Regions from separate parts of the Homo sapiens genome. Here region 1 is linked to region 2. The links come from fine-mapping of genetic effects on gene expression. A gene starts in region 2. The other region holds a variant in brackets. All regions are shown on one strand. Distances are between the middles of the regions.

Region 1 (12,178 bases), 100 kb after region 2:
GGCTCAGAGAACTTTAACCTCTTAAGCCCTGGCTGCTTTGATATCTTTGCAATGCCTTCAGATAGATTTTTTGGGCATTTATTAATCTTTTCAAATTGCTTTTGCCAGGAACATTCTGATACAGGCTAGTTCATCAGAACCAGAAGTGAAGTCCCCTGTTTATGACGTTGTAAGTAGAAGTTTTTATATTGCCAAATATATCTGAGCATAGAACTCAGTTTTCCTTTATGATAACTCGTTTAGAAATCCTTTATTAAACTCAAGGTCATTCATATTTTCTTCAAAAATTTAGACTTTTATTTTCACATTTAAGTCTTTTTTTTTTTTTTTTTTTTTGAGACGGAGTCTCATCATCCAGGCTGGAGTGCAGTAGTGTGATCTCAGCTCACTACATCCTCCGCCTCATGAGTTCAAGTGATTCTCCTGCCTCAGTCTCCTGAGTAGCTGGGATTACAGGTGCACACCACCAAGCCCAGCTAATTGTTGTATTTTTAGTAGAGATGGGGTTTGGCCATGTTGGCCAGGCTGGTCTTGAACTCCTGACCTCAAGTGATCCACCTGCCTCGGTCTCTCAAAATGCTGGGATTACAGGTGTGAGCCACCATGCCCGGTCTCACATTTAAGTCTTTAATCCATTTGGAGCTGTATTTTTTAATAGTGTGAAGTAGAAATCAAATTAAAAAAAATTTTTTTACAGATAGCTTATTGTCCTAGTGGTGTTTATAGAGTAGGGGTATACTTTTCCTAGTGACCTGTGATATTTCTTTTGTCGTATGTCTAGTACTGTGTCTGCACTCTCTACTCTGTTTAATTAAACTATTTTTAATATTTTTGCACCAATAAAGTACTATCTTAATTGCTATAGTTTTCTAAGGTAAGTCTTGATTTCTTTTTCTTTTCCAAAAAATGTCGTGGCTGTCTTTGGCTTTTTTCTCTTTTGGAATTAGCTTTTCAAGTTTCACAAAAAACTTTATTAGAATTTCATTTGAAATTGCCTGAATATTTATATAATCAATTTGGGGAGAAATGTCTTTCTTGATATAAATATGTCTTTAATGTCTTTCAAGGGAGTTGTATAGTTGTATAATTTTCCACTTGAGGCTCTGCTTATTTTTAAAATATCTGTATTTCTGGCTACCAGTTTATTTTGCCATCATCATTGAGTATTTTATTTTATTATTTATTATTTTTTAAGAAGGAGTCTCGCTCTGTCACCCAGGCTGGAGTGCAGTGGCATGATCTCGGCTCACTGCAACCTCTGCCTCCTGGGTTCAAGCCCAGCTAATTTTTGTATTTTTAGTAGAGATGCAGTTTCACCGTGTTGGCCAGGCTGGTCTCGAACTCCTGACCTCAAGTGATCCGCCCGTCTTGGCCTCCCAAAGTACTGGGATTACAGGCGTGAGACACTGTGCCTGGCCTGTTGAGTATTTTAAATGTTATATTTCTGTTTGTTGTTGATGCAGATAAATACAGTTAAATTTTATATCACTATTATATTCAATTACCTTGCTAAATTGCCTAATTTATTCTAATAATTTATAGAGTCTTTGCAGTTTCTATGTGAATAATCACATTCATTGCAAATAATTCATTTTGTTGCCATATTTTAATCATTCTACCTTGGTTTAATTCATCTCGTATTATTGCATTGGCTGGGGTATCCAGTACAATTTTGAATGGAAGAAGTGAGAATGAGCACCCTTCTTTTGTTCCCTCCTCTAAAGGGAATACTTCTAAATTTTACCTGCAATTATGATTTCTGTTACAGGTTTTAGGTAGACACGTTTATCAAGTTAACTATTTTTTTTCTCCTATTCCTAGTTTGCTAAGTGTGCTCTGTTTTTTAAAACAAATTACAAATGAATGTTGAATTCTATCCAATGCCTTTTCTTCATCCATTGACAAGATCATATAGTTTTTTTCCTTTGATCTGAAAATGTGACAATTTACATTAAAGGATTTTTAAAGGTTAAGCTAATCTTACGTTCATGGTATAAGCCAAATTGGCCATGAAGGATTTTATTATATGATATAGTTTACGATACGATATATGAATGATATATTTCATGAACATATAGCTAGGTTTTGCTTTCCGATATTTAGGATTTTTGCACATATATTTATTTGCAAGATTATCCTGTAACTTTCCTTTTTCATTTTCTGTCTGGTTTTGGTATCGGAATTATATTAGATTAACGGGTACATTTCCTCTCAGGAATTCTTCGGAAGCACTTGTATAAAATTGGAATTATCTGTTTCTTGAAAATTTGCTGTAAGTTTTTACAATTCTATCTAGATCTTTTTCTTTCCTTTGAGGAAATATTTTAAATTACTGACAAATTTTCTTCGTTTTAGAACTATTCTTGTTTTCTGTTTCTTTCTGAGCCAGTTTTGTAAAATATATAATTTTCCATATATAATTTTCCATGTAGTCTAAACTGTCAAATTTATTGTCATGAAGTTTTTCATAGTATTTCATTATCTTTTAAAATCTCTCTTTTACGTATTTTTAGACATATTCTCCATTTGTGCTTTTTCTCTCTCTTTACTAGATCAATCTCACCAGAGACCTGCATCTGTTATTATTTTTTCTTGAAGAACCAACATTTCATTTTTTAAAAAATCATTTATTTATTTATATATAATATATATTATATTATATATATTATATATTATAATTTATATATATTATATATTATATATAATTTATATATATTATATATAATACATATATTATAATATATATTATATATTTTATATATATATATAATATATATATTTTTGAGATGGAGTTTTTGCTCTTGTCGCCCAGGCTGGAGTACAATGGCATGATCTTGGCTCACCGCAACCTCCACCTCCAAGGGTTCAAGCGATTCTCCTGACTCAGGCTCCCGAGTAGCTAGGATTACAGGTGTGTGCCACCATGCCCGGCCAATGTTTTGTATTTTTAGTAGAGATGGGGTTTTACCAGGTGGGCCAGGTTGGTCTTGAACTCCTGATCTCAGGTGATCCACCTGCCTTGGCCTCCCAAAGTGCTGGGATTACAGGCATGAGCTGCTGCAACCGGCCTATTAATTTATATTCTTTTTACTATTACTATTGCCTTCCTTCTTTCTTTGAGCTTACTTTGTTATATTTATAACTTCCTAACCTGGATACTTAGTTCACTAATTTTTAGCCTTTATTTTTAATATAAAAATTTAAGAATATACATTTTTTGAAGTACTTCACTAGATGCATCCCATAAACTTTAATTTATAGCATTTTCATTATTTTCAATTGTAAGTATTTGTACATTTTCATTATGATTTTTCTTGGATTCATGTTATATAGAAGCATGTTCTTCTTTTTAAAATTGAGAAGCACATTCTCTAAGGTCAACATTTTTTGTTTTCTTTTTGTTATCGACTCCATTACATTCTGATCAGAGATCATAATCTATATGACATTGATTCTTTGAAAGTTGTTGAAACACTTTACTGCCTGAAATGTGGTCACTTTTTGTAACTGTTTCATATGTAATTGAGAAGAATGTGTGTTCTCTAATTGTTGGGTACTGGGTTCTGTATATATCTATTAAATCAGATTTTTAAATTGTGTTGTTCAAAGACTCAGTTACTGCAAGATATGTGTTGAAATCTTCCATTTTGAACACCTGGATCCTGCTATGGCTGAAACATCTATCTTTGGATTTCTTTTTTTTCATTTGAGCCAATGAATTTTTGTTTTTTTGCTTGAGTGGGCTTGGATTGGGTTTTGTTTCACAAACCTAAATAGCTGTCGGTGGACAGTTCGGTTGCTTCCACCTTTTGGCTGTTGTGAATAATGCTATGAAAATAGGTATACAAGTCTCTTTTTGAGGCCGTGCTTTCAACTCTCTTTTTAATGTTTTGAAGAACTGCCATACTGTTTTCTGTAACAGCTACACTATTTTACATTCTCACCAATGGTACACAAGGGTTCCAGTTTCTCCCTATCATCACTAATATTTGTTATTTTCAATTTCTTTTGACTATAGCCATCCTCATGGGTGTGAGGTGATATCTCATGTGGTCAACAGGTTTTTATCATGCGTCTGGCACTGTGCTAAGTGGATTACAGCACAGCAAACACACTTACAGAACTTGAAGCCGTGTGGGTATAAAATATACACACATACCGAATTACAGTTTTGCAAATTGCTCTAAGGGAGAACTTCTCCAAGGGAGAAGTTACAGGGAATGGGGTCGAGGGCGTGACTTACTCCTAGAGGAGGGGCATCTCTTAAAGAGATACGTGGTAGGCTGGGCTTGGTTGCTCATGCCTGTAATCTCAGCACTTTGGGAGGCTGAGGCGGGTGGATCATCTGAGGCTGGGAGTTCGAGACCAGCGTGGCCAACATGGAGAAACGCCATCTCTACTAAAAATACAAAATCAGCCATGCATGGTGGTGCGTGCCTATAATCCCAGCTACTCAGGAAGGTTGAGGCAGGAGAATCGCCTGAACCTGGGAGGCGGAGGTTGCAGTGAGCTGAGATCGTGACACTGCACTCCAGCCTGGGCAATAAGAGCGAAACTCGGTCTCAAAAAAAAAAAAAAAAAAAAGACATGGTAGCTCGCTCCCATGCATCCTCCTGGGATGGAGAACTTTTCATGCTGTTTCCTTAATAGGCTTCTGGGGCGGTGACCTTTTAGCTGCTGAGTTTTCAGAGGCCCACAGGTCCTTTCTTAGCGCACAGTAGCCTTCGGGACTGGGGCTTGCCAAACACCTTCAGAAGTCCCCAAAGAGCTCTTACTCTGGCAAACAGTTTGCCATCAATAAACAGGGCAGTGCTTCCTGCCCAGATGCCTGTTAAACTTGCCTCTCTGCCACAGTGAGTCACTCTTAGCAAAGGTTGCCTTGTTGGGCAGGATGGTCTGGTGACCCAAGGCCACTTGGTTTTCTGTGATCCCTTTTGCCAATTTGTGACCAGAAGTTAGATGGTCACTGGGGCAAGGGGAACTGGTGGTAAATGGAGTCACCAGAGGTGGCAGGATGGTTGCTATGTTTGGGTGCATTTTCCGTTAATTCTGTCTAAATAGGTTTTTAAAAACATATATGTATTTATTTATTTTTATTTTTTTGAGACAGAGTCTCACTCTGTCTCCAAGGCTGGAGGGCAGTGGTGCAATCTCAGCTCACTGGAACCTCCACCTTCTGGGTTCAAGCTATTCTCCTACCTCAGCCTCCTGAGTAGCTGGGATTACAGGTACGCACCACCACGCCTGGCTAATTTTTTTTTTTTTGGAGACAGAGTCTCGCTCTGTCGCCCAAGCTTGAGTGCAGTGGCACAATCTTGGCTCACTGCAAGCTCCGCCTCCCGGGTTCACGCCATTCTCCTGCCTCAGCCTCCCAAGTAGCTGGGACTACAGGCGCCCACCACCACGCCCGGCTAATTTTTTGTATTTTTTAGTAGAGACGGGGTTTCACCGTGTTAGCCAGGATGGTCTCGATCTCCTGACCTCGTGATCCACCCGCCTCGGCCTCCCAAAGTGCTGGGATTACAGGTGTGAGCCACCGCGCCCGGCCTAATTTTTGTATTTTTAGTAGAGACTGGGTTTCACCATGTTGGCCAGGCTGGTCTCCAACTCTGGACCTCAGGTGATCTGCCTGCCTCAGCCTCCCAAAGTGCTGGGGTTACAGGTGTGAGCCACCGTGCCCAGCCACTAAATAGTTTTTAAAATATATATAGAGAGAGTGGCAAGATTGGACCCAATGATCCTTTCTTGCTTGGCATTTGGAGAGCTTGAGAGGAGGTGCCCAGGGCAGTCATTTTGACATTTTCTTTGAAGAGACAGGATGACACCACCCAGTTATGCTAAATTCTTGGAAAATTAGTGCAATACCCCTCTCTTCTTTCTCACTCAAGAAAGTTGAGAAGAAAGCCAATTTATAGGCTGGGTGCAGTGGCTCATGCTTGTAATCTCAGTGCTTTGGAAGGCTGAGGTGGGAGGATTGCTCGAGGCCAGGAGTTCAAGACCAGCCTGGGCAACATAGTCAGACCTCATCTCTACAAAAAATTTAAAGAAATCAGCTGGGTATGGTGGCATCTGCCAGTAGCCCCAGCTACTTAGGAGGCTGAGGTGGGAGGATCGCTTGAGCCCAGGAGTTCAGGGTTATAATGAGCTCTAATTGTGCCATTGCACTCCAGCCTGAGTGACAGAGCTCTAAAAAAAATTCCAAATTATAAGTGTAATATCATTATAGCAAAGCATACTTGGCATAGCACCTGGCACTTAGACCTGTGCTCAAGACCATAAGCTATTTTTATTTATTGTTATTATTATTATTATTATTTTTGAGATAGAGTCTTGCTCTGTTGCCCAGGCTGGAGTGCAGTGGTGTGATCTCGGCTCACTGCAATCTCTGCCTCCCTGGTTCAAGTGATTCTCTGCCTCAGCCTCCCAAGTAGCTGGGATTACAGGCACCCGTCACCACGCCCAGCTAATTTTTGTATTTTTAGTAGAGACGGGGTTTCGCCATGTTGGCCAGGCTGGTCTCGAACTCCTGACCTTAGGTGATCCACCCACCTCAGCCTCATAAAGTGCTAGGATTACAGGTGTGAATCACTGCGCCCGGCTTATTTTTAATTAATTATTATTATGTATGTCTTAGGCCTAACCTTCAACCAGGAGTAGCCAAACCACACCCCATGGTCCACATCCATCCTGCCACCTGTTTTTGTATGACCTGAGAACTAAGAATAATTTTTGCATTTTTAAGTAGCTAAAAAAGAGAATAATAGTCTCTGACATGTGAAAATTGTATGAAATTCAAATTGCAGTATCCTTAAATAAAGCTTAATGGGAACACAGCATTGCCTGTTTGTTTATGCATTGTCTGTGACTGCTTTCACACCACCATGGCCGAGTTCAGCAGAGACCATACGACTCACAAAGTCTCAAATATTTATTTTCTGTTCCTTTACAGAAAAAGTTTGCCAAAACTCTTACTAGACTGTCACATCCATTGGAATCCACAAGTACGTACTTGTTGAATATTTATCTGTGAGGTTCAAGACCATGTCCATCTTGCTCACCATTGTCTTTCTCTCTCTTTTTTTTTTTTTTTGAGACGGAGTTTTGCTCTTTC[G/A]CCCAGGCTGGAGTGCAGTGGGTGATCTCGGCTCACTGCAACCTCTGCCTTCCGGTTTCAAGCAATTCTCCTGTCTCAGCCTCCCCAGTAGCTGGGATTACAGGCGTCCACCAACACGCCCGGCTAATTTTTGTATTTTTAATAGAGATGGGGTTTCACCATGTTGGCCAGGCTGGTCTTGAACTCCTGACCTTGTGATCCACTCTCCTTGGCCTCCCAAAGTGCTGGGATTACAGGCATTGAGCCACTGCGCCCAGCCTCACCATTGTCTTTCTATTTCTGAATACAGAATTGATCTCAGTCGTTTCTGTGGAGTTCATTGTTACCCAGATGTCTTGGGATTTTCCAGCTTTCATGGGTCATCTTCCATTACAGTTGTTATATAATTGAGCTCTGTTTTGCGTTGATCCAAAAGAATTGCAGTTTTATACCAGGTAGTGCTCCCTGGGCATTTCTGGGGGTCCTTGAGGAATGCTTTCATGTTCCCACATCTGTTTTAAGAGTATTCCTCTGGGAGCCTCCTCCTAAGTTCTCTGCTAGACATCTTTCATTGCCCTAATTAGCCCCATTTCTTTTACTGGAGATCTGGAGGTGAGAGCAGAAAAACATCATAGGAAAGCCTGGACCCTAAATCCCGGACTTCACATATTTTAGAGCTCATGCATCGTGCTCATGAGCACCCCAACTGGTGAACCTTTTTCTCCTGCCATGGTGTCGTGGGCTCATCCTGTTTCCCATGTCGTTGGAGTCTTTGACTATCTCTCCTCCAAATCCCAACTTCCACTTTGTTCCAGAGAGAGAGAAGGAGAAGCCTTTCCTCTCCATCACACAAAGTATTCTTTAGAGAGATGCATTTCTTCCCTCCATGACCTTTTCAGAAGAGGAGATTGCAGCCAGGTGTGGCGGATCACACCTGTAATCCCAGCATTTTGGGAGGCTGAGGTAGGCCAATTGCTTCAGGTCAGGAGTTCCAGACCAGGCTGGCCAACGTGGTGAAACCCCATCTACTAAAAATACAAAAATTTAGCCAGGCATGATGTTGAGCACCTATAATCCTAGCTACTCAGGAGGCTGAGACACGAGAATCACTTGAGCCAGGAGGTGGAGGTTGCAGTGAGCTGACATTGCGCCACTGTACTTCAGCCTGGGCGACAGAGCGAGACTCCATCTCAAAAAAAAAAAAAAAAAAAAAGAGGAGATTGTTTACCCTTTGCTTAACTGAAATGCCTCCAGGAGTCCAAGAGTGTTCTCCCAAAACAAAACAGAAATTTTCCTTCCTCTTCTCTTCAGAACCACTGTGATGAACTCAATCTCTGTCTGATGAGTAGCTGAAAAAAATGCTGGTGGCTTTAAAATACCTGTTTGTCCCCCACTTTGAGCCTACAAGATAGTAGAAAATATCAAAATTCAGTTTCACAGCACAAATGAATAAATGAATGAACCTCCTCTATCTATATATATATGTATATGGTAAATACAATGTTCTGTATTTAAATTGTAAATACATTTTATATAGCACATATATGTAGTATATAAATACATGTACTTTTCTCTATATAGCATATCATACAGTAAAATATTATAGGGTCAGTCACGGTGGCTCATGCCTGCAATCCCAGTGCTTTGGGAGGCCAAGGCAGGAGGATCGCTTGAGGCCTGAAGTTCAAGACCAGCCTGGGCAACATAGGTAGACCCTGTCTCTACAAAGCATTTTAAAAAGTTAGCCAGGTGTGGTGGTGTACACCTGTGGTCCTAGTTGCTTGGGAGACTGAGGCAAGAGGATTGCTTGAGCCCAGGAGTTGGAGGCTGCAGTGAGCTATGATTGTGCCACTGTACTCCAGCCTGAATGACAGAGCGAGACTCTTTCTCAAAAAATAAATAAATAAAATAATATATTAAATTACCTAAAAACATTGATACTTTATTATTAGTGGCTCATGTCTTTCTTCATAGGGATTCAGACCCAGCCTTGGTTAATCTCTGGTTAAGAAACGCTGGGCCTAACAGCCAGGTGCTGATGCCTGAAATTATGAGATGAATTTCTGATTGGGCTTCTTGGCTTCACTCGTACTTTTCCATGCCCACAGCCTGGTATCCTCCTCCAATGTTAGCCAGCTCTGGTGTTTAAAAATGAACTCCAAAGTCCCCAGGACTGGGTGCAAGGGAGGTGAGAAGAGAGGATGGGACAAGCATGGGCATTGATCGATGACCTCCTCTTCCTGGAAGAGTCTTCCAAGTATCTGCCCTACCGGTAGCAGGTTATTCTAGGCTCCTAAGTCTGTGGGGGTGCAATGGTGTTAATAACATCCTGTGCTGAGTGGGCACAGGTGGAGGAAGTGGATACCCAGGAAGCTGGAGGAAGGGAAGAGAGGCAGTGAGTGGGTTCACAGGCTGAGAAAAGCACTTTGATGTGCTAGTGGGGTCTGGTGTTAGAATCTGGCTTTGAGGTTCTTTTAGGGGTAACAGCTGTGATCAAAGAACCAGTGCCATTGTGATGGTGGTGAGAATAATGCCTGTTTATGTCTCTTCTTTTTGCTACTTTTTTTATGACGAAAGTCATAGATTCCTTTTTTACATTTAAAAAATATATGTAAGAGAATAAAAATGGATCCCATCACTAAAAGATTTCATCAAAAAATATCCATGGAGCTTCACCTGTGGCTAGATTCCAGGTTCTGGGAATAGAGAGAGAACAAAACAGACACCCTCCCTCCTTCCTGGAATTTATGAACAGATGAACAAATGAATAAGATATTTTCAGATAGTGATAAAGGCAAGGAAGAAAATAAAAGAGAACATACAAGTATCTTGGTGGGAGGTTAGTTTAGCAAGAGGTGATCATTGTTCACATTTGCGTGTGTGGTGTTCAAGGTCTTTTTTACCTTTAGTGTCTGTCCTTCTCTTTGCATTCTGATCTAATTATGCATCATCTATCTAAAAATGGGATCATGATGTACACGCTGTGTTGTAACCTTACTTTTTTCATTTACTTGGAAACATCTGTTTCATTTATTCATCGGCATCATTATTTTTACAGATGCAGAGCAATTCATCACATAGGCTATACCATGCTTACATAACCAGCCCTTTATGATTGCACATAGGTTGCTTCCATTGTGTTGAAAAGATGATGTGTCTGGAAACTGTCCCTTTCCTTACATTGCCACTACCACCTCCCTGGCTCAAGCTTGGGAGGTGGCAGGTCCCTTGCTTGGACCATTGAAGTAGCCTCTTAACTAGTCCTCTGGCTTCATTTTATACTCCTCTGCCAAGATTTTATATTTCTGGTCATGCCACTCTTTGGCTTCCAAACTATCATTGGCTCCCTACTGCCTACACAATGAAACCTAAACATCTTGGATTTATGATGGTTGGTTGTGCACTCGTAAAACTGGATGGCTTGAATAAGCATGTGAAAAGATGCTAAATACCCTTAGTCATTACAAAAAATGCAAATCGAAACCACAACTAGATACTACTTCACCTTTATTAGAATGGCTGTTAAAAGCAACAATAACAACAATGGAATATAATAAGTGTTGGCAAGGATGCAGAGAAATTGAAACCCTTGTACATTGCTGGTGGGAATGTAAAATGCTGCAGCCGCTACAGAAAACAATACGATGGTTCCTCAAAAAGCTAAAGAGAATTACTATACAGCCCAGCAATTTCACTTCTAGGTAGATAACCAAAAGAATTGAAAACAAGGACTTGAACAGATACTTGCTCATCAGTGTTCACTGCAGCATTAGTCACAATAGCTAAAATGTGGAAACAAACCAAATGTCCATCCACCAATGAAACGATAAAGGGAATGTGGAATATTCATATGATGGGATATTATTTAGGTGTACAAAGGAATGAAGATACAGTACATCCCTCAGCATGGATGAAACTTGAAGGCATTATGCTAAATGATATAAGCCAAACACAAAGTGATCAATGTTGTATAATTCCACTTACAGTAAATACATAGATTAGGTAAATTTAAGGAGACAGAAAGTAGATTAGAGATTACCATGTTCCTGGGAATGGGGAGGTATTGCTTAATGGGTACAGAGTTTCTGCAAGGGTGATGGAAGAGTTTTGGAAGATGGAAGAGTTTCAAGATAGTGATGATAGTTGTACAGCAATATGAATGTAATTAATGCCATTGAATTGTCAACTTAAAAATGATTAAAATGGCAAATTTTATGTATATTTTAGTACAATTAAAAAAAAAACCTGGATGATATGTCCATCCCTGCCTCCATGCCTTTGCTCACATGGCTTTGCTCTTGCTGGGGAACACTTTTCTTACATTTTTGTCTATTGAAATCTCATTCTGTTTTCAAGGCCGATCTCAAATAGGACCTCCTTCCTTGATGACTTTTCTAACTTATTGTCTCCCTATGTGTTCTCAAACCCATGTGATCTTCCATTTGTTTGAGCTCTCAGACTATGTTCTATGTCCCTTTTGGGCTGTTTCTTTGCCTTCATCACTTACTATGCTGTAAGTTCTTTGAGTAGAGGGACCTTGCCTTATTCATCTTTGCATTATTCATCCAACAAATATTTACTGAGACCATACTATGTGGTAGCCTGGAATATAATGCCAGTACACTGTAAAAAGTCAATTAATGTTCAGTTGAGTTGGCATGCCATATGTGGTCTGGACCTCGAATTTTTGGAGGACTTTCAGAGTGTGTAACCTTAAGGAGGAGTCAGTTTTCCTCCCTACTTAATAGTCTTGTTGGCACTCATTCTTGGAAGTAGTGGACTATCATAGGTAGTTTTCTCTTTCTTCTGGGAACATATATCATTCTTCTTTTTGGGAAATCATTTTCTTTCTTCTTCCCTGACTCCAACCCATGTGATTTGAGTGAACTGCCATGTTTTCACATGATCTTGCTCTCTTGGTTGCTGTTGATTGGTTCAAGGTGAACACCTGACCCAAGATGGACCAATCAGAGCTTTGCCCTAGGATTTTTGAAACCAGAACAGAGAGGAGAGCCTGGGGAGTTGAGAAGCCACATTGCCACGTGTGTTAGAAGCTGGCATGCAGCAGGATGTGGCTGATGCACAGAG
Region 2 (12,178 bases):
CCTTCCGGCAGATCCAGGATGGCTACAAAGTTATTGTGGCTGCAAGGAAAAAGGAAGCAGAGGACTTCCGTGGGGTGGGCTGCCCCCCGAGCTTACTTGCCAAACCAGCTACAGAACAAAACGTTTCCACATAAAACCAAGAGTTCAGCTGCAGGAGAACAAACATTTTTAGCCCATTTAGACAATTCAGCATAATGACCTCAATCTGAAAAGGCTATAAGGAAGCAGCAGTGCGACACAGTTTCCTGAAAACTCACCTTACTCAAATACCAGGAAACCACATCCCTAATGTTAAAAGGTCAACAGTCAGGCATTTGTGCGTCTCAAGCTCGCAAGGCTCCTGGATGCCAAGGAGGATGACAACACAAGATAAACAGAAGCTGCCTCGTTTTACCCTTTGTCACTTTGCCTTGGGCAGGAGAAGGGATCAATTGAATAGGAAGCTCAAATGTTCTCTAAAGAAACTTGCCTAATGACTGAAAAACCAAACTCCGGAAGAGCCCCTTCACTGGGTTGTTTTGTCCCCTGGCTTGAACTGACCTGTGACTGCTGTGCTGAGTGGCTCCCTCCTTCTCCAATGGAAACGCTGGAAAGCAGGCAGCCCCTGACAATAGGCCTGACACTTTCTCCCTCATTTTATCAAGAATACTCACTAAAGGTGTTCTCTCACTGACAACTTAAGACAGAAGTCCATGCTGGGGTTCCTGATAAAATGTCTTACTATAATCCTTGCTAATGACACCTACATAGCATGTATTTTTCTTTTCTTTTTGGAGACAAAGTCTTGCTCTGTTGCCCAGGCTGGAGTGCAGTGGTGCAACCACTGCTCACTACAGCACTGACCTCTCAGGCTCAAACAATCCTCCCATCTCAGCCTCCCGAGTAGCTGGGGATACAGGTGTGCACCACCATGTCCAGCTAATTTTTAATTTTTTTGTAGAGATGGGGGTCTCACTATGTTGCCCAGGCTGGTCTTGAACTCCTAGCCTCAAGCAATCCTCCTGCCTCAGCCCCCAAAAGTGCTGAGATCATAGGCATGAGCCCCCATGCCCAGCCAACATGTACTTTTCAAACAAAGTATTACGCAGAGTCAAAGTTAGATGAAACCTCAGAGATGATCTGGTCCAATATTCCCTCTTTACAGAAACGAACGCTGAGGCTCAGGTTAACTAACGTTAGGTGACTGACAGCATGGCCAATGTGGGCTCAAATGTGGGTTTCTAAGATTCCAGCCCAGTGCTCCCTTACTGCATTAAGACAGATTTTTGTGTTTCTGTGGAAAAGTCCTGACCGAACAGATAGCTGAGGATCTGAAGTGAAAGATGTCTGTGACACAGAAATATTCTCTTTCTTCTGTACTCTAAACCTAGAGACCACCAAGGTTTAACATTTGAACCTTAAGACTTATTAAGCAAAATTATTTTTCCACTAGGCATCCATTTTATAGAAACATCCATTTTCTGTTCTCTCTCAGAGATGTTTTAGAAAGAAGAGAATTTATGTTAAGACAAATATGTGAACACTCCCCAGGCAATTACCTTCTGGTGAGGGGAAGTTTACTCCAGTTGTTGAAGGACCCAGATAAGTAAACTTCCTTTCCGCCCCCCGTCCATCGAAACACCGTTGGCCGAGCCTGGGCGGGAGCTTTATCATTCACTTCCAGATCATGCTGCCAGGCCAGGAATTCCTCCTTCTCTGGTGCCTAGAAGCAGAGCAGTTTACTCAGAAAGCCATAAGCGAGCTCCCTACAACAGACAATATTGACAATTCATTCTAAAGACGCAGCTGTTACTATCTTGGTTCATGGTTAGGATCGGAAACTTACTAGTGGTGCCTCAGTTTCCTTGCCTGCAAAATAGAAATATATTTTTTAAGGTTGTGAAGACTGAGACAGTCCATGTAAGTGCTCTATATAGTGTCTGACACAGTGAGTGCTAATTATTAGCTATTGTTGTCATTAAAGAAGTTGACATCAAAATTCTAGAAGAAGCTATGAAACACACTTGGAAGGGGCTACTACGAATCCAAGACTAGCTTAATGTCATGTTCCTCCCTTAATCAAGCAAGATTTGAAGTACAGTCATGTGCATGATGTCTTAGTCAACGACGGACTGTGTATATGGTAGTCCCATAAGATTATACCATATTTTTATTGTTATCTTTTCTATGTTTAGATACATTTAAGTACACAAATCCTTAAATATACTTGTGGAATAAGTGTCTACAGTATTCAGTAGAATAACATGCTGTACAGGTTTATAGTCCATAAGCAACAGGTTACACCATATAGACTAGGTGATACGGTTTGGCTCTGCGTCCCCACCCAAATCTCACCTTGAATTGTAATCCCCATAATCCCCACGTGTCAAGGGCAGGACCAGGTGGAGGTATCGATCATGGGGGCGGTTTCCCCATGCTGTTCTCTGACAGTGAGTGAGTCTCATGAGATCTGATGGTTTTATAAGCATCTGGCATTTCCCCTGCTTGCTCTCATTCTCTTCTGCCGTCCTGTGAAGAGGTGCCTTTTACCATGATTGTAAGTTTCCTAAGGCCTCCCCAGCCATGCGGAACTGAGTCAATTAAACCTCTTTTCTTTATAAATTACCCAGTCTCGGGTATTTCTACATAGTAGCATGAGAACAGACTAGGTTTGTGTAAGTACACTCTATGATGTTCACACAATGATAAAATCACCTAATGATGTATTTCTCAGAATATGTCCCTGTCATTAAGTGATGTATGACTGTACATGAAAATTTAAGAGGAACAATTCTAGAGCTGTCAACTTGAAAATAGGCAAATCCAGATTTTGAGGAAGGGAAAAACTACTCACAAAGTTCTGTCTAGGGACTGGGGAATAAAGCAAGACAAAGACTGAACCCTCATTAGGATAAATGATAACCTCCAGTGTGGTAAGCTCCGTATAACTGAGGTATTCCAGAATAAGAAATAAACTCATCCAAATCTATCTGGATGACATATGTAGTCATGCACCTTTTAGATTTTTTCCCAGTCAGAAGCCAAAGACTTAAAAAGAGCAGAAGGTTCAGGCTGGAAAAGACTCTTCAGGGAGTTAAGCAGGCTTCTAGCACCTTCATCTCAAATACCGACCTCAGCTTATCCAAATGATGCCTGTATTCTTTGAATTCTAACAAGATCTACATATTAAATAACAGACTGGAATCACTTCACACTAAGGATAACTAATTATGACCAAAATAGCACCCTAGTGTAGTTAAAAGAATTCACGACTTTTTTGGTATCTGGGGATTTCAGTAACTTCTAATGAAGTGAGAATGGACGCTGCTTGAAATCATTCCCCATAGATGATGTGTGTGCTCAACATTTCCTGGAGGAGTTTTGGAATAGTAACAGAACAAATACTTCTGAAGAAAGTAGTTTTGATTCCTTTGGTGTCTTAAATAGCCTTCTTGGGACCAGGGACCAAAATTACCTCCTGGGGAAAGGACGTCAAGTCATTAGAGAAACATGATTCTAAAGTTCACTTTGCACACAGCTCTTCAAGAATGCAACAAATTCAGAGAGCAAGTTCAAACCACAGGTTGTAGGGCCACATAAAAGCAGCCTCTTTGTAGTCAGGCTCAAAACTAAGATCCAAAAGAAGGTGTGAGATGTGATCACCTCGCTCAACATGAGGACAAACACAGATGGAATGAGCTGCCAAGCAATTAAATGGATGATGATTAACATGAAATTGGATACTAACAGGGTATGTTGGGCAGAGGGCAGCTTTATCTTTCCTAAACCTACTTTGTTCCTTGAAACAATTAGTTCCTTTTGGACATAACACATAAATACCAGCTGCCAGAATCACTAAGTGTCCTTGGACTGAGCCCTGCGGCTGGAAATATCCACCATATGAAGGTGGTTAACAGGAGTGTGGTTGAAGCAGGAGTTAAGTCACCTGAGTTTTTGAATTTAAACAGGCTGCAGCAGGAAGAAAAATGTTTGCACTGGCCTGCTTAAGCACGATTAAGTCATATTTAAACAACACTAGAGAGAAGTTCAGTAGCTGCTGGCTGCCTCCTTCAGACAGACCCTCACCGCCCACTGACCTCTAGAAGCTGAAAGACTTTTCTATGTACGCTTTAAAAAAAAGCAGGGTGAGGCCGGGAGTGGTGGCTCATGCCTGTAATCGCAGCACTTTGGGCGGCCCAGGCGGGCGGATCACTTGAGGTCAGGAGTTCAAGACCAACCTGGGCAACATGGCGAAACCCCACCTCTACCAAAAATACACAAAATTAGCCAGGCATGGTGGCACACGCCTGTAGTCCCAGCTACTCGGGAGGCTGAGGCAGGATGGTTTGAGTCCGGGAGACGAAGGTTGCAGTGCCCCGAGATTGTGCTACTGCCCTCCAGCCTGGGCAACAGAGTGAGACTCCATCTCAAAGAAGGAAAAAAAAAAAATAAGTAGGGTGGGTTCAGTGGCTCACGCCTGTAATCCCAGCACTTTGGGAGGCCGAGGCAGGCGGATCTCCTGAGGTCAGGAGATGGAGACCATCCTGGCTAACACGGTGAAACCCCGTCTCTACTAAAAATATAAAAAATTAGCCGGGCGTGGTGGCGGGTGCCTGTCGTCCCAGCTACTCGGGAGGCTGAGGCAGGAGAATGGCGTGAACCTAGGAGGCGGAGCTTGCAGTGAGCCGAGATCGCGCCACTGCACTCCAGCCTGGGCGACAGAGCGAGACTCGGTCTCAAAAAAAAAAAAAAGTAGGCTGAACCGGCCAGCACCGTAGCTCACGCCTGCGATCCCAGCACTTTGGGAGGCCAAGGCATAAAGATTGCTTGAACCCGGGAGTTCGAGACCAGCCTGGAGAACATTGTGAGACCACCGTCTTTTTTATTTTTATTTATATTTTTTTTTTGAGACGAAGTCTAGCTCTGTCGCCCAGGCTGGAGTGCAGTGGCGCGACCTCGGCTCACTGCAAGCTGCGCCTCCCGGGTTCACGCCATTCTCCTGCCTCAGCCTCCCGAGTAGCTGGGACCACAGGCGCCCGCCACCACGCCCGGCTAATTAGTGAGACCACCGTCTTTTAAAAAATAAGTAGGGTGAATCAAAAGTGTTGGGCAGAACTAAACACCTCTGGCAACTGCCGTCAGCTGTTCCGCTCTACTTTCAGCTTGTATATGTACCTGGTTTGCCTCCAAAATGGATAAATTCCCAAACTAACTTTTACAAAAGCTCCAGTTTGTGTAAAGGTGAGGGAATTTGTCTCAAAGCAGTGCAATTAATTACACCTAAGAGAAAAGCAGAAGCTGGGGCTCAATTACTGTTAGCTCGACTCTGAATTAATTAAGAATTTGAAACTCTGTCCCAGAGCTGCTTTCTCCTTAATGATGTTAAACCAAGTGAGCACCTCCTCCCTCAGGGTGACTTTCTCATATTGGTAATTAGACACAGGTTCTTGGACCGCTAAGAGAACTCTTACAGGACCATCTGGCTTTTAAGTGCACCGGGTAATGTACCACCTCCCTCTCCGTTCTGGTGTTTTTCGAAAGGATGTGACGGGAATCTAGTGGAGGGTTCCTCTCCTCAACATTAGTCAAGGGGAATCGGGTTCCTCCACACCGCTCGCACCTTGATTTCCTCGGAGTGGAAGAGGTCGGCGTCTTCGGGGCTGTCCATCAGGATCTTGGGCCTGTCCCCGTCCTTGGTGCCCCCCGAGCTGTCCCTCCGGGGCGTCTTATGGCCACCATGCCGCTCCAGCGCGGCGCGCTCACTGCTGGTATTGCCCATGATGGGGGTCTGCGGGGACACAGGGAAGGCGGACGGCGCCTCACTGCAGGAAAGGGACCCTGAGCAAGGGACTCCCGGAACCGCGGGTCCCAAGGAGCCTGCGGAAGGAGTCGGAGCACCAGGACACCACGCCCCTCGGGCCGGGAGCCGGTTCCGGCTGAGTCGGCAGGGTTGCCGAGCTCTCGCAATCGCGCTTTACCTGCCCAGGCAAGCCGCGGCAAGAACGCAAGGGGCGCGAAGATAAACCGACACTTTCCCAACCGCTTCACCACCCCTCAGCGACTTCCGCTTCCGGCGACTCCGTAAGTCGGCCCGGCCTAGGGCGTGGAGGTGGCGGCGGCCAGCTAAACGCGCGAGGCTATCTCGATTCCATTTCCGCTTCCGGTCTTGAGCGGTGCGGTAACAGGTGCCCCGGGCCGTCTCTGCAGGCCTCGGAGCGCGCAGTCGCAGTCAGCAGCCGGCCGCCCAGGGCCAGGCCCAGGACGAGGCGCTGCCGAGGGCCGGCAGGGGGCACCCCAGCGCGCGGGCAATCTGAGCCGTTCATGCGCTGGGCTGAATAATGCCATTTAGCTATCTTTGCTCACTTATAGTTGATTCTACACTCTGCAGCCAGAGGGATCTTTCTAAAATGCAAATCTGATTCAGAAACTCCACTTCTTAAAGCCCTTTTAATGCACGTGTTCTCACGCTTTACAGTGCATTAGGTTAACCTGGAGCGCTTGTTAAATGCATCCCCCACTGCAGACCTGCAGAATCATGATTTCTACAGATTAGGGTCGGGGGTGCAGGCAGTCTTGCAGGTATTTGAAAAAATGGCAGACCATAAGATCTCTGGAAATTTCTTATGTCTAGTAGGTTGGGGGTTGTAAAATGCTGGAGTTATTCGTGTATTTTTATTGAGTGTGCAATCTTTTGATAGGTAATTTTGCAAGATATCTTGTAATCACTTCGGAAACATCCTTCTGCATAAGATGCATTAGCGTTTGTCATTTACTCTGGTCAGTGCTTCAACAAGAAGTGCATACAAATACGGTAGTAAAATATTCTCATCTTCTCATTGTCAGTCATTGTCATATTTTGTGGGTTTTTTGGTGTGTGAATATCTCAAAATACTTTGCATTTGCCGGGTCAGGTCATGCATTTCACCCACTGAACATTTATTTAGTACCTAAAAAAGTACCAGACATTGTGCTAAGGAAATGAGGAACACAAGATGACTAAGATAAGGTTTCCTGGGGGGAATTCAGCAGTATGCATCAAAATTTAAAAATGCACCTTCATTTTGACACACAATTTTACTCCTAGGAAACTTGTGCAGAAATACACACATGAAAATTATTTACAAGCATTATCTACAAAATATTTACATGCAAAAATATATTCTAAGATGCACTTGTCACCCCCCATGCCCCCATATATTTTAATTTCTGAAACTGGATGCTTTTTACAATAATGGAATCTTACACTTGGTGAAATAAGGAAATGAAAAACTACAAAATCCTAAAAGTTGTTCAGTAGGAGAATGGCAAAATGAATGGAATACATTCATTTTGTAGAATACCAAGCAACTTTTAAAAAGGGAGAAACCATTTTTAGGTCACTATGGGGAAGTGTCTATGATATTGCAAGGTCCGGAAGCAAGTGAGAGAACAAGTTCAAGGGCAGGAGCTCTGAATTCAGCCTGGCCATGTTCAGATTCTGGCTTTACCATTTAGTAACTGTCACCTTAGTCTCTTCTTTTGTGAAATGGGAACAAAAATAACACCTACTTCATAGGCTTGTTTTGTGAATTAATTGGGAACGTGCATAAAAATGCTGAGCATAGCACTTGACTCTTAGTAAACACTCAATAACTGTTAACACTTTTATTAGCACTATTAGGCTAGCAAATGGAAAGTTCTGGAAGGGTATACAACACATTGTTAATAGTGGTCTTCTGTGGGGAGAGGAGGGAGATTGCAAATAGGAGCAGACAGAAAAGGGACTTTCACTTTTCATTTATATAGTTCTGTATTTGAAAAGTTTTCTATTGTGAGGATGTACTACTTTTTAATTTAAAAAAATAAGATATGGTTCCAGCCCCAAAGGAATTAATACAGTACAGGCTGGCACCGACCCACAGAAAAGCAATAATATAGCTAGGTAAGGGATCCTGTGGGAGCCCAGAAGGGACTTAAGCCAGGCCAGGAAAAGGGATGGGAGCCAGGAAAAGGGATGGGAGCCAGGAGGGTCTTCCTGAAGCTGATGACTGAGAATTTGAATGTATTCAGTATAATCAGAAATGTTGAATGTGCTTGCTGAATTAAATAAGCTAAGATACTGTGGATGACCCAGGATATCTTCTTTGAGCTGCTTTTCTAATAGTGGCCCTGACTTGGTTACATGAGACAGTGGGGTGTTGAGTTTTGAAATCTCTCCCAAACAGCCGGAGAGATAAGAAAGAACACATGAGCTGTGGATTCTTTATCTGAGCTATGCAGATGCTTTGATGCATGAAGAAAGTTTTAAGACATCTGCACTAGCTTGAATAAGATAACAGTGAAAGCATGGGTGGCCCTTGATGTCAAATACAATCAACAATATCCTGAGGATGCCACCAACTGCTGATTGGAAACTCTTACCACATTGTATCAAGATTTCATGACAAAGAAACTAACATTGGTATCTATCAGCTATTGACCCCATATTGAAAATCATGGGTAGGGTAGACTCGCCAATTACAAGTGTCTACTTGGGTCCCAGCTGTGTCTCTCTTGGGTCATTTTGTGTTACTTATCTGTGTAACAATGGTTTGTGACTTTCCTAAGCATCAGAGCGTCTCATCTTTCTCTGATTCTCTGCTGATATGGATGTCAGACCATTCCATCTTGGGGGCTGGAGGTGTGCCAGGAAGTATAACTGTTAGCACATTGCTGTGTAAAAGGCATCATCTACTCACTGCTGTCTGTCTGGCACCAGGGCAAAGACAAATGATAAATACCCTAGATTCTCCCCCAAACAAACCAGGGCAATTTTAACACAGCCACAGCTAGGAGTACCCCTCCCCCACCCCCGCAACCCTGGCTTCAAATTCACTCCAGCTCCAAGCACAAAAAGAAGTAGGTTTTCAAGTCCTTAAAAGTCACCCAGAGTGAGATAAAATCTCATTTATCCTTAAATTTATGATTAAAAGGGTTAAGGATAATGTTTTGGGGCCTCCTCCATAGGATGGATTAGAATCAGTATAGCACTTCTGAACTGACCAACCCATTTGTTTTATATAAGGAAGAGTCTAAGTCCCAGAGATCGAACAGTTTTGCCTGAGGTCACTCAGATGATCATAGGTCATACTGAGACTGAATTCTGGATCACCTGGCCACTCCCCACTACATCATGGTCATGGCACCTCATCAAAAAGACCTTTGGTTCCCCAGCTGGCCTGTCTACAAACATTTGTACTGTTCTGAAGAACCCTCCCCATCTAAGAACAGCCAGGGCTCTGATCACAAATAACTCAATGGCAATATTGAGTGCCAATTATGAGCCAGGCACTGTTGTAACTCTTGGTTACAACAGTGAACAAAACCAAGTTCTTGCCCTCCAGAGGAAAGAGTCCACACACATATGCACATGTGGTGAGAACAGGCAGTGTTCTCACTAAACATCGGTAGCTGGAGGAAGAAATTTCACATTTGGACTATGCTGTAGACTAAATTGTATCCCCCCAAAATTCATACATTTGCACTCCCACTCCCAATTTTATAATGTTTGGAGGTGGGGCCTTCAAGGGGTAATTAGGGTTAGATGAGCTCATGAGAGTGGGGCCCCCATGATGAGATCAGGGTACTTATGGGAAGAAGAGACGCTGGAGAGCTTGCTCGCATGCTGTCTATTCACGCCCATGCTCAATGGAAAGGCCATGTGATGACAAAGCAAGAAGGCGGCCATCTGCAACTCAGGGAAAGAGCCCTCACCACACATCAACCATCCTGGCACCCTGATTGTATTAGGCCATTCTTGTATTGCTATAAAGAAATATTTGAGGTTGAGTAAGTTATAAAGAAAAGAGGTTTACTTGGCTTATGGTTCTGTAGGCTGTACAGCAAGCATGGCTCTGGGTATCTGCTTGCTTCTGGTGAGGCCTCAGGAAGCCAAGGGGGAGCCGATGTATTGATGTATCACATGGCAAGAGTGGGAGTAAGAAAAAAAGTGGGAGGAGGTGCCGCACGCTTTTAAACAACCAGATCTTGTGAGGGCAGCACCAAGACGATGGTGCTACACTATTCATGAGAAGTCCACCTCCATGATGCAGTCACCTCCCACCATGTTGGAGGCCTCACCTCCAACATGGGATTACATTTCAGTGTAAGATTTAGGGGGAAAAGTATCCAAATTATATCACTGATATTAGACTTCCAGCTTTCGGACCTGGGAGAAGTAAATCTCTGTTGTTTAAGCCACCCAGTTGATGATTTGTTATAGCAGTCTGAGCTGACTAAGACAGACTCAAATGTGTGTGGGCTGCTAGGATAGAATTACAAGCTTACTTTTAGGGCTTAACCAGATTTCCACCAGGCCTTCTGAATTTTGCCTAGCCAATGTAAGTAACACTGCCAATGTTTGAGAAACTTGTCCATCTTTTCTTGCTAGACATTCTTGTGTTCTCTTTGCACTGAGATGTGAATATTGTGACAGAGAGTCATCAACATAGAATTAAAAGAAGTTCATTCTACAGCATTTGGTCTACAACCTTAATTGGCAAATAGCCTCATTTTGTGACTTTTAGGTTGTCTGAGAAAATTCTGTTTCTTGACCTGGGTTGGTAATTATTAACATGTTTGCCTTGTAGTAACTTACTAAGCCATACATTTCTTTTGTGTAGTTTCCTGTATCTTTATTTTATTTTCAATAAAGTTTTTTTTAAATAAATAGCTTCACTCACAGGGTAAGCTGAAACCTAGAAGGGAGAAGTGCCCAGTTCAAGGTAACACAATGTTCTTAATAAAGTTCACCTCAAGTCTATCCTCTTTTTTTTTTTTTTTGAGATGGAGTTTCACTCTTTTCACTCAGGCTGGAGTGCAGTGGTGCAATGTCGGCTCACTGCAACCTCCGTCTCCCGGGTTCAAGCGATTCTTCTGCCTCAGCCTCCCAAGTAGCTGGGACCACAGGCGCACCCCACCACGCCTGGCTACTTTTTGTATTTTTAGTAGAGACGGGGTTTCACCATGTTGGCCAGGCTGGTCTCAAACTCCTGACCTCAGGTGATCCACCCTCCTCGGCCTCCCAAAGTGCTGGGATTACAGGTGTGAGCCACTGCACCTGGCATCTCTATCCTCTTTTAAGAGCTTTGAAGGAATGGAGGAGAAAAGGATGTACACTTTCTACCCCTTTTCTAGAGGACAAGTGACAAACTAAAGCAGTATCCAGGCAAAGATCCAACGGAGGTGAAAACAATGAGAGGAAGTCTGTCTCTGTCTCATCTCTTTAAAATGTAAGCTCCCAGGGATTTGAATATCAAAGTTTCATAATCACTTTAACATATGCTGTTGGGACCATCATACCCCATCTGCATGTGCCCTTCTGCGCATGCCCCAAACTTCCTAACTGTGAGCAGGTGCAACTCTGAGGGCCTTCTGGAGAAAGCTTTGTCGACACAAGTGGGAACCCAAGGGGACCAGAGAAGACACCCTGAGAGAAGCCCTCAGCCAACCACAGAGGAGCCAGTTCCCTTGCCCCTTGGATGTGCTAACTCTAATGAAGCAGCGTCATTTTTCTGGGGTAACACCCGAGGTTCGATGTCTCATGCTAAGGAAATTGAAGACATGGCCATGCAAGGAGTGGGTTTAAGAGTGGAAAGTTAAATAGATGAAAGAAGGAAGAGAGCTTCCTCATGCAGAAGAAGGGGTCCTGAGTGGGTTTCCCTGGTTTGGGGCAAGGTGTGGTTGGTTTTAGGGATGAGCGTGAGGAGATGGTATATGATTTACATGGGGTGTAGTGGATTGGTTGGACCAGATGTGCCATTTTCATAGCCCGTGAAGAGGCTGGTCATCCCACTCTAATCTTTTATTATGCAAATGGAATTTTAAAAAACCTGGCTGGTGCCATGTTATCTGCACACGTGGCAACAAAGAAAAGGGAAGAGGGAACCTCCATGTTGAATATACCTGGTTTCCAGCTATCTGTTTTCTATTGGCACAGCTGCTGGTATTTACCTATGCAAGCCTCTAGCTTGCTTATCTATGCTTGCAGCTTGATTTTTCAGGCTGCTTTTTGTTAAAAAAAGAAATGATTTGGAGACTGCGTTTTTATTAAAAGAAAAACCTTACTGAGGACTCTCTTACCCTCACTAACTGTCTAAATAATTTCTTTTTAGCTCTCGTATAACTAAGATATATTCCCTACCGTGTCTCAGAGGTCCCCAGTGGAAATGCACCCTAGATG

What was found. PIP is the estimated chance that this variant, and not a neighbour inherited with it, causes the effect.
Region 1: its variant is fine-mapped to the expression of PRKAB1-AS1 in skeletal muscle (GTEx, PIP above 0.99). The same link has a PIP of 0.9 or more in atrial appendage, breast, lung, subcutaneous fat, thyroid and visceral fat.

Annotation. Positions count from the first base shown.
Region 1 is chr12:119,558,258-119,570,435 of GRCh38, reverse strand. All of the region lies in intron 1 of PRKAB1-AS1 (PRKAB1, TMEM233 and CCDC60 antisense RNA 1), which reads left to right. Among named protein-coding and RNA genes, the nearest start is that of TMEM233, 29 kb to the left of the region's middle. The variant G/A (reference allele first, on the strand shown) is at 7,112.
Region 2 is chr12:119,661,825-119,674,002 of GRCh38, reverse strand. It overlaps PRKAB1-AS1 (PRKAB1, TMEM233 and CCDC60 antisense RNA 1), which reads left to right and starts at 5,876. Exons shown (of 3, transcript NR_188494.1): 1 at 5,876-6,060. It overlaps PRKAB1 (protein kinase AMP-activated non-catalytic subunit beta 1), which reads right to left and starts at 5,870. Exons shown (of 7, transcript NM_006253.5): 1 at 5,600-5,870; 2 at 1,539-1,702; 3 at 1-39. The coding sequence starts at 5,758. RefSeq lists enhancers at 4,540-5,175, 5,614-6,023, 8,158-8,302, a silencer at 6,124-6,393 and a cis regulatory region at 8,221-8,238.